3 linked regions of the Homo sapiens genome follow. The protein of the gene in region 2 interacts with the protein of the main gene of each other region in a pairwise test. Each region holds a gene or a part of one and is shown on either strand. Other genes may lie near its edges.

What was found.
Region 1: the proteins of FRA10AC1 (region 2) and TTC14 interact in a two-hybrid assay, tested with the Homo sapiens proteins (one large-scale study listed by BioGRID and IntAct).
Region 3: the proteins of FRA10AC1 (region 2) and HABP4 interact in a two-hybrid assay, tested with the Homo sapiens proteins (one large-scale study listed by IntAct).

What each region holds. Positions count from the first base shown.
Region 1 is NC_000003.12:180,608,241-180,611,630, forward strand, and holds the end of TTC14 (tetratricopeptide repeat protein 14), read left to right. Parts: exon of another isoform or gene 1-460; coding exon 461-570; exon of another isoform or gene 571-1,389; coding exon 1,390-2,302; 3' UTR 2,303-2,890; downstream 2,891-3,390.
Region 2 is NC_000010.11:93,695,981-93,699,636, reverse strand, and holds part of FRA10AC1 (protein FRA10AC1), read left to right. Parts: intron 1-1,240; coding exon 1,241-1,336; intron 1,337-1,455; coding exon 1,456-1,501; intron 1,502-3,656. UniProt on the Homo sapiens protein: May be involved in pre-mRNA splicing.
Region 3 is NC_000009.12:96,484,568-96,488,223, forward strand, and holds part of HABP4 (intracellular hyaluronan-binding protein 4), read left to right. Parts: coding exon 1-66; coding exon of another isoform or gene 67-90; exon of another isoform or gene 91-92; intron 93-3,521; coding exon 3,522-3,656. UniProt on the Homo sapiens protein: Ribosome-binding protein that promotes ribosome hibernation, a process during which ribosomes are stabilized in an inactive state and preserved from proteasomal degradation.

The sequences.
Region 1 (3,390 bases), on a different chromosome or scaffold from region 2:
ATCCAACTGGGCTGTGCTATTTTTTTAAATGGTTTGTATTTGAACATGGTGATTCCTCCTTCACTTCACCTTAACGGAATGTCTTTATTTGAATTTTATTTGTAAAATGTGTCCTGTTTAAATTTTTCAATCTTTAAAAATAATTTTTATGTACTTTTTTTTTTTTTTTAACCTTTCTTGCACTCTGGGTCATGGGTACCACTGCAATGGCTTCCCCTTTTTTTATGGGATACCAACTGCAATATGGTCCTCAATGCTGTTCTGGCCATTTCAATGACTAATGCCAAACATCTGTATGACTAATTTTTTTATGTTAAAAAAATACTGTTTAATGCTGGCTCTATGGTGATTTGGTTTTACTAAATTGGGTTTCTCGTTGGGGGTGGTCTTTTGAATACTGGGTTTTATATATTCTGCTATTTTTAACGTGTGGTTTTTTTCGATATCTGGGTTCTAAAAGAAATCTTTGGAATTAAGAGAAAAACAAGCTGAAAAGGAAGAAAAGCAGAAAACAAAGAAAATAGAAACAAGTGCAGAAAAGTTGCGTAAGCTCTTAAAAGAAGAGAAGAGGTAAACTATAATATTCAGTATTTTTAAACTTAAGGCAACTACTGAATTGAACCCAAAGTGCCATACTGGAGGTAAAGTAAATAAAAATATGAAAGTATTTCAAGTGCCAATCAGTGACTGTTAAGAATCTTTAGCAAATATGTGTTCCATGTATTTTCTTATTAAAGAGATGAAGTGGAATTTAAGGCTAGAATTCTACAAAAAAAGAGTATCTTAGAATTAAAATATAGAATAAGTTACTTTAATTATGTTTTAGGAAGAAATATTTTAGAACTAGAGCAGTGGTTCTCAACTAGGGGTGGATTTATTCACCCGGGGACATTTGACAAGATGTGGAGACATTTTTGATTGCCATAACTGATAGGGTGCTACTGCATCTAGTGTATAATGGTCAGGGATGCTCTTAAACATTCTGTAATGCACAGGTCAGCTCCCACCCGCACCCCCACCCCCTACCAAGAATTATTTGGCTGAAAATACCAATAATCAGGTGAAGAAACCATGAACTAGAGGTAGCCAAATAAAAAAGTTGAGTTCTCCTTTATGTGTTCAGTAGTCTTAAGTTTTTAAGGTAGTGTTGAAAAAAGTCTGTCTTTCAGAGATGATGGATTTGCTTACAATGATACCTGTCTGCAAGCATTTTTTCCCCCAAAAGTGCTTAATAGTAAAATTAGATCTTGTAGTAGCCGAGATTATTGTATCATTTATCTGAACCACAGCTTTTATAAAATCTTTAAAGGAAACAAATAGGGCCCACATCTTTATGAATAATTTAGAAACATTTTTGTATATATATGACAAATGAACTGTTTTTTTTAGGCTAAAGAAGAAAAGAAGAAAATCAACTTCTTCTTCAAGTGTTTCTTCTGCTGATGAATCAGTGTCTTCATCATCATCCTCTTCCTCTTCTGGTCACAAAAGGCATAAGAAACATAAGAGGAACCGTTCAGAGTCTTCTCGCAGTTCCAGAAGGCATTCATCTAGGGCATCCTCAAATCAGATAGATCAGAATAGGAAAGATGAGTGCTACCCAGTTCCAGCTAATACTTCAGCATCTTTTCTTAACCATAAACAAGAAGTGGAGAAACTACTGGGGAAGCAGGATAGGTTACAGTATGAAAAGACACAGATAAAAGAGAAAGATAGATGCCCTCTCTCTTCATCTTCACTTGAAATACCGGATGATTTTGGAGGTAGGTCTGAAGATCCAAGAGATTTTTATAACAGCTATAAAACCCAAGCAGGTAGTAGCAAAACAGAAAAGCCATATAAATCAGAAAGACATTTTTCCAGTAGAAGAAATTCCTCAGATTCCTTCTGTAGGAATTCAGAGGACAAGATTTATGGTTATAGGAGATTTGAAAAGGATATAGAGGGAAGAAAAGAGCACTATAGAAGGTGGGAACCAGGTTCTGTGAGGCATTCTACCTCACCAGCAAGCTCAGAATACTCTTGGAAGTCAGTTGAGAAATACAAAAAATACGCTCACTCTGGATCACGTGATTTCAGTAGACATGAGCAAAGATACCGTTTAAATACAAATCAAGGAGAATATGAAAGAGAGGACAATTATGGGGAGGATATCAAAACAGAGGTTCCAGAAGAAGATGCACTAAGTAGCAAAGAACACTCAGAAAGCAGTGTTAAGAAAAATTTACCTCAGAATTTACTGAATATATTTAATCAGATAGCTGAATTTGAAAAAGAAAAAGGAAATAAGTCAAAAAATTAATACACCAAGGATATCGGCACCATTACACAAAATGCCATTAAGTGAAGTTTTTGGTTGTATTAGTCATAACAGTTGAGTGCAGAAATCTCTGCTTCTAAAATTATTTGTAGAGATTACAGGAAACAAATGCTTTTAAGTAAGTTTTTCTCAAATTTTGTTTCAGTTCTAGGTCCCTTGTCACAGCTTGGTTTTTAGACTTTTTATGTATATGTTTATGTACAGTATATTACTCTTGACAGTTTGAATTTCTTCACCTAAAGATAATTCTCTGAAAGTACTGTTTCTTCATTCTATTGCGGTATATGAGAATTCCTGGGTGCATCTTATTCTGCTGTTTGAGAGAAAAATTTGTGCATTGAACACTTGGATCATTTTTATAAAAATTAATTTCATTTTCTTTTCTGTTAAATTAAAAATCGTCAGCTTTTGAAAGATTATATGTTCGAATGTTTCTTGAACACTTTTATATTTATCAGTTTAAATATTACATTTTTTGCCCAATTTTTTTTAAAATTTTTAAATGGTAGATTATATGTCTTAATTTTCCTCTAAAGCCCAATTTGATTAAAAGTGGTTTGTGAACAGTCATTGGCTTCCACCCAGCATAAGTGCCTTAGGAATAAGATCATAAAAGTTGAATAGGAGCCCATTTTGCTTATTTCTCCATTATTTTTTACCTCATTGCTAGCATAGCCATAAAAAGCTTTTTAACTTTAAATATTTACAAGGCCCTTAGGGCCTGTATTCCACGCAAGGGTAAATCAGAAAAGAAAAAAATCCTTTTAGCAAAAACATAGCAGTAGCAGAGAAGCACATTGTAAATCTGGCTTTTCTTTAGGGAAAGAAAATTGGGAGACTCTCCTAGTGTAGCAGATGTTCAGTCCAGAAGGCACTAGGCATGTCGTTAAATCTGACCTGCATTTCTTCTTACCACCTCCTGTGCCTTGATGCTTCTCTGATGACCCCTTTCTCAGAGTCTGAATAAATAACTAGACCAACTAGAGCCTGGTTTTACTAAGAATAATAAATTCCAGCAGCTAGAGCTGAAGAACAAAGAGACTTGGATTATAAAGATCCTCCCCAAATTG
Region 2 (3,656 bases):
TGAAAGTATAATGCAGCACAGTTCTTACGCATACGTGAATGAGCAGACTAAGGTCACGGGAAGAAACTCAAGGAAGGTTTTTTTGAATTGCAAGAGACAAAAACTCTTAGCACATAAAGCCTGTGCGTTATAAGCAGGATACGTCTTGGTGGAGCTGCTGTGCGTAGGAGCATTGTTCTTAGCTTTCAGTGCATAGAAACTCAGTTTTATACTTTGACTCAGGAGTGGTTGACTGATGTATACTAACCAAACTTACACGGCTGTTGACTGATTTTTTTAAGCAAATGTATAGAAATTGGCTTATTATTTCACACTGAGAGCAATATATTAGGCATACTAACAGGTTCTGAACATTTTTATAGGATACTCAGTCTCTGCAATAAAGGATAGTACTAATTATAATAAATTACATTTTTGATGCTTTACATTTTCTAGATTTTTCATTCAAAAATACTACTTTGTAAGAATAGAATTTGAGCAAATCTAGTTGGATACTCTGCTCCAGGATTATATTCATCACTATAACTAGGGCTGACAGTCTATGGCAGGGTGTCCAGTCTTTTGGCTTTCCTGGGCCACATCGGAAGAAGAATTGTCTTGGGCCACGTACTACAGTGGAGCACACACAATTGTGAATCTGTTGGTTCACATTGTTGGCCTGAAGCAGTGCTGGGCCTGCGTAAAATACACTAATGATAGCCAATGAGGTTTAAAAAAATGTGAAAAAGTGTCTTAATGTTTTAAGAAAGTTTACAAATTTGTGTTGGGCCACATTCAAAGCCATCCTGGGCCACATGAGGCCCATGGGTTGGGCGAGCTGGATCTGTGGTTTGTGTTCTCTATAATCAGCCTTGCTTTTTGTGTATCATTAATTACCAAAAACTTCCTTATCACTATGTTACAGATAGAGAAATGAAGAAACAAAGAGATAAATAATTGAATCTTATTAAGATTAAGGTAGTAATTGACAGAATTAGGATTTGAATCAGGAAGCTAGGTGATATGACACTAGAGTCCATGCTTTTGTTAGTTTCATCTTCCCCGTGTTATAGGTATTAAAATAATGTTAAGGTATTAATTAAGCTATTTAAGGAAATGTAAAATATCTCATTAAAGATCAGTGAGTCTTCTTAAAGTTAAGACTTACATTCTTTAAAGTATATTCCAGTTATGAAAATATAAAGAATTAGAAAATAACCTTTGAAAAAAGTGAACTCTTATTTTCTTCTTAATATATCAGGACAGTTGAAGATGACTTACTGCTCCAAAAACCATTTCAGAAAGAAAAACATGGAAAGGTGGCCCATAAACAAGTTGCAGCAGAATTGCTGGATAGGTATGGTATTTCAGTGTCAATTCTATTTCTTGGTTTAAGTTGCTTCGGATTAGGGGATTTGATTATGTTAATTTGAATATAAACATTTTGAATTTTCTTAAAAAAATTTGTTTTAACAGGGAAGAAGCAAGAAATAGAAGGTTTCATCTCATAGCTATGGATGCTGTATCCTTTTTTTATTTCCAGATTTTTATAACTAGTAGAATATTTTAAAATCTGCTTTTTTGTTTTATAAAATCTTGTGAAGTCAAATAGGCTTTTTTATTTTTAAAGATAAGTATTTAGTGATGTAGGATTTTGCCATTTATACTTTTGGGTACAATTCTCTTTTACTAATATATAGGAAAGATTTAGAGACAAAAATAATAAAACATATTACTAGTACTCTATAAATAGGTTTATAAAGTACATGAATCTGCAAATATATTTTCCAAATTGTTTTTTCAAGCTTTCAACATTTCCTTTTCCTATACTTATCTTTAGTCTCATTTTAATTTATTCTCTTCCTACCTGGTTCTTTGCTATTTAAGGTCTCTATAAAACTTGTATTTAAAATTAGGTCTATCCAGTCTGTCCCTGGATCTAAGGAAAAAATAAAAATAAAATGAGGCCTGCCTGTGGACTGTCCTCAGGCCTGCCATGGCTTTAATTTTTAGGCATGACTTAAAGCTATCTTTAAGATAAACCCTGCTTCCTGGTTATAGCCATTTGTCAACTCAGTTTTTTAATAAGACTGGCTGATGACACTAACTGCTACGCTGGCCATCCATACTGCTGTTGAGAATATTGGAGAATTTAAGAGATACCAAGCAAAAACTGAAGTATTTTTGGGTATTTATTGCTGTGATCAGAATTGGGAGAAGGAGACAGTGTCAATTTGATACGCCCCCTACCTGTAATCATCTGTTTCACTGTGCTATTCCAATATTTTTCTTTTAAGTTATAGAAGTACCATTGTGTCACTAATTGATTTATTCTTCTTATCTCCTAACCCAATAGCTAGCTTTTCCATGGATCTCATCTGCCATTTGTTCCTTTAGCATTTAAACATTTGCTCTGCCTTCTCTGACACCTACTGCATTGGGGGCACCTAGTTATAGCCTGGTGAGAGTGAAAGTATGGGTACTCTTTTTTCTGGCATAGGAGGAGTTGGAGCCACAGTTTTTTTTGTTTGTTTGTTTTTTGTTTTGTGTGTGAGGATTTATTTTATTTTATTTTTCTTTATTTTATTTTATTACTTTAAATTCTGGGATACATGTGCAGAACGTGCAGGATTGTTACATAGGGTATACATGTACCATGGTGGTTTGCTGCACCTATCAACCCATCACCCTCACCCTTCCCCGCCCACCGGCTCCAGTGTGTGATGTTCCCCTCCCTGTGTCCATGTGTTCTCATTGTTCAGCTCCCATTTATGGGTGACAACATGTGGTGTTTGGTTTTCTGTTCCTGTGTTAGTTTGCTGAGGATGGTGGCTTCCAGCTTCATCCATGTCCCTGCAAAGGACATGATCTCATTCCTTTTTGTGGTTGCATAGTATTCCATGGTGTATATGTACCACATTTTCTTTATCTGGTCTATCATTGATGGACATTTGGATTGGTTCCATGTCTTTGCTATTGTGAATAGTGCTGCAATAAACATACATGTGCATGTATCTTTATAATAGAATGATTTATATTCCTTTTGGTATATACCCAGTAATGGGATTGCTGGATCAGATGTTATTTCTGGTTCTAGGTCCTTGAGGAATTGCCACATTGTCTTCAATAATGGTTGAACCATTTTACATTCCCACCAACAGTGTAAAAGTGTTCGTATTTCTCCACAGCCTTGCTAGCATCTGTTGTTTCCTGACTTTTTAATAATTGCGATTCTGACTGGGAACCACAGTTTTCTCTGGGTTGTTTGACAAGAGTAGAGTAGTTATTGTCTCAAAGTTGTCTTGCTAGGCTGACTCTTGGTCATTTGGTTAGAGAGAACAGCTTTTGTTGACGATTTTTTAGTCCGTGCCTGTTGGTGTTTCCGGGTTGTCACCTTCTTTACCTCCAATTCTAGGATACATGAGACAAAAAGAAAACCTAGGGAACTCGCTATCATGTCATACCATAGGTCTTCAGGAGGTCCCTAGCGGGGCGCCTTCTTCCTTCCACCTTTTAGAGTCTTTTTATGTTTGATATATAATGTATAAGGATTTTAGTTGTTATTAGTATGAGGAATAGGGAGAAGTACATCTTTGCCTACTCCATCTTCCCGGAAGCAAAAGTTACACCCACCACCTGTTCTTGTACATAAAATTATATTGGAATACAGCCATGCT
Region 3 (3,656 bases), on a different chromosome or scaffold from region 2:
CGGAAACCAGAATCCACTGTTCCTTCCAAAGCCGTGGTGATTCACAAGTCAAAATACAGAGATGATGTAAGCATTGCATTTCGTATGTAGAGGTAATCTTTACTTTTACCTTACTGGAAGTGAAATGTACCTTTCCACTTCTGTCTTGAAAATGGAACATTAGTAGTTGGCAGTCTTTGTTTCTAATCAGAGATGATGCATGCCTAATTTTACTGTATTGTTCATTAAGAAAAGGAATTGAAACTTGAGGTATTGACAGATGCACAGAGCAGTTAGAGTGACAGTGCATCTTCTGCTCACCCTGGGACTATGCGGGTACTGTACACATACTGTGTATTAACTGTATTTCATTTTTCTCAAGGGAGAGTTACAGATTGTGTCTTGTACAATTCAGAGTTAATCAAAGGAGAACTACACTCTGTGTCCCCTGAGTAGGTTACTTTCAACTCTGTTTCTTGATAAGAGCATTTCACTGAGTAGTTGATGACTTTTTTTTTTTTTTGAGATGGAGTTTCGCTCTTGTTGCCCAGGCTGGAGTGCAGTGGCGCGATCTTGGCTCACCGCAACCTCCGCCTCCCGGGTTCAAGCGATTCTCGTGCCTCAGCCTCCCAAGTAGCTGGGATTACAGGCATGCGCCACCACCCCGGCTAATTTTGTATTTTTAGTAGAGACGGGGCTTTTCCATGTTGGTCAGGCTGGTCTTGAACTCCCGACCTCAGGTGATCCACCAGCCTCAGCCTTCTAAAGTGCTGGGATTACAGGCGTGAGCCACTGCACCTGGCCGAGTAGTTGATGACTTTTTAAACTGTGGTTGAGGTTCCATGCACTTCTGACGCCTTTCCCATGTTGGTTCAGCAGCTTTGCGCCCCCTGCCTAACTGCAGACGTGGCGGGAGATGAGTCCCCGAACGCTTGGCTGCTCGGTCAGGCACTGCCACAGCGGCCAGCGTGCTGCAGGGGTTGCTCAGGGAGCTCCTCCGTGTTGTGAGGCCTTATTGCTCACGGCTTACGTCCAGCTCTTCTCAGAAGCTTCAGTTTTGCAGGGAGAGGTTTCGGGGAAACATCTAGCAGCATATGTTGATAGGGATGCCATGGGGTCATCAAGTCCCCGACTTGTTACTGAACTTAAGGCTAGGTCCACTGAAGCATTCCCATTATGGGATTTAGAATCTGTATCATTCCATCTACAGCTTGATACCAGTCACTATTTCGAGGTGGGAGTGAGCAGGTAGCAGGTTCTTCCTCTCTGTGGGGTATTAGTTATTGATTTTCATGTGGAATCTCAGGAATGTTATGCTATTGTAGAGTTGTCATTTACACTTTGGTTAGTTTCATTTTCTGAGTGAGTACTTTGATTAGGTGTCATTTAAGATACAGGGTTCTTGGGAGGCCAAGGCAGGTGGATCACCTGAGGTCAGGAGTTCGAGACCAGCCTAGCCAACATAGTGAAACCCTGTCTCTACTAAAAATACAAAAACTAGCCGGGCGGTTGGCGGGTGCCTGTAGTCCCAGCTACTCGGGAGGCTGAGGCAGGAGAATCGCTTGAACCCGGGAAGCAGAGGTTGCAGCAAGCCGAGATCACGCCATTGCACTCCAGCCTGGGCAACAAAGTGAGACTTCGTCTCCAAACAAAACAAAAAAAAAGATACAGGATTCTCTCCCATCCTCTTGTTTTGGTCAGTCCAAGCTGTAGGAGGCCTTACTGAGTTTTGAGCTGTTCCACAAGAAATGGCTTTTTGTAGACATAGGCGGCCGGAGCTTTATTTCCCTGGCAATCTCTGGGAGGTGTTTTCTAACTCCATTAGCAAGCTGGGTTGGTTCTTAACCTGTCCACTTCCTTTGTTCTTTTTTGTTCTAGGCATTGTAAATAAAAATTTCTCTAAAACAAATGTGCTGTCAGGATTGAAATATGCAGCTGACATGTTAGGTAAAAATAGAAGCTGCTCTTTCTTAATCCACACCAGATTTGTCCTCCCGGGCTCCAGAGGTCTCCCAGAATATTTGAAGCAAGTGGGTTAGCTGAGTCATCAAGCCTGGTCTCAGTGAAGCACACATCTTGGTCCTTGTTAATCTTGGAGGATTGAAGATTTTAGCTAGGAATTGTTCTTAAAGCAACACAAGCCAGATCTTGGGTTCATCAGTTTACTTTGTTCTGGACACCTGAAGAGGCAGAAGCACTAGAATACCTAGCAAAGTTCAGACCTAGTAACAACCTCGCGTAAGGCACTGGGCGGTGAAAGCACTTGGGCCAGGGCCAGCTGGAGCTGCAAGTGGAGCCCAAGCCTTAGACTGTGTCCACTCCCTGCTCCACTGCCCCGAGGCCCTTCCTGCCCCTTCCTGCAGTGGGAGGCGACTCAGAGCAGGGACCCCAGGGAGACCTTACCAGCGCTTCCCTGCTGAGTGCCAAACAAGGCAAGGGTTGAGTATTTTGCCTGTTACTATTTTTTGTGTGTATCTTTTTACAGAATGCCAGTGCTCCTGGACTGTTTTTCTTCACCTTTTTAGCATTAAGCATCCAACTACCTAAAGCCTCTGCTTTATTTTAACCTGAGACCTCAAAGGGGACACAAATGTTAAACATGAAGGCTGTCATGAGCATATGGCCTAAAGGTGTTGATATGCTCGTGGAAACTTTGCTCCATTTCCTGGTTGTAGGAATGTTTAATGTTGTAGCACTTTGGAGATTCTCATCTGAAATCACTGACATATCTTCCTTTCTGTAGGTTTTTACTTTACTTAAAGTGGGGTTTTTGTGTGTGTGTGTGTGTGATACCCATTATTATGAGTTGAAGCCAAATCAAATTTGGATCAGATTTAATTAATTTATTTAATATAGCTGTCACAAGAGATAGAATTTTAATGAAAGCAGTTCTTAAAAAGCAGCTTGACTTCTTTGTGCAGTGTTGGTAGAACACTCAGGTAACCATACTCTTGTTTTTATAAAGTTTCTCTATATTTTGAGTCAGAATTGTTTATTATAAATCATGTGATTTTTAGCACATGGTATTATAATCAGCACCCATGCTGAAAGGAATTTCTCTGTTAAGTTCTGTTCTGGGAAGGGGATATTTCCTTATTTATCAAAGCATTTGTGAACAGATAAGACAGAAAATAAGCAGAAATGAAAACTTTTTTATCTCAGCAAAATACACTTAGATATAAAACATGTATATTGTTTGCTATTATTAGTCATGCCAAATCTTATATCTTAACCTGCTCAGCTGATAGAAATTTGGTCCCACTTGAAATCATAATAAGTTCAAAGATGTTTGGATTAAGATTGTAATTGCAAGAATGTGGGACTCTAGAACATACAGAACTCACTGTCTTAGAATCAGAACAGCAGTGCTGTCTTCCTTTGTCCAGCTCTGCAGCCCAGGGCCAGAGACAAATCCAGAGAATGGCTCTGACTAGCCCCTGATGGTGTTTTAGCTCCTGTGTAGCACACTGCAGCCACTAAGCCAGATGAGTGTGGGGATGGCTGTGGACTTGTGCGTGTTTGATGCTGTAATTGTGTTTCAGATGGTAAAAGATGACTATGAGGACGATTCCCATGTTTTCCGGAAACCCGCCAATGACATCACATCCCAGCTGGAGATTAATTTTGGTAACCTCCCTCGTCCTGGGCGTGGAGCCAGAGGAGGCACCCGGGGAGGC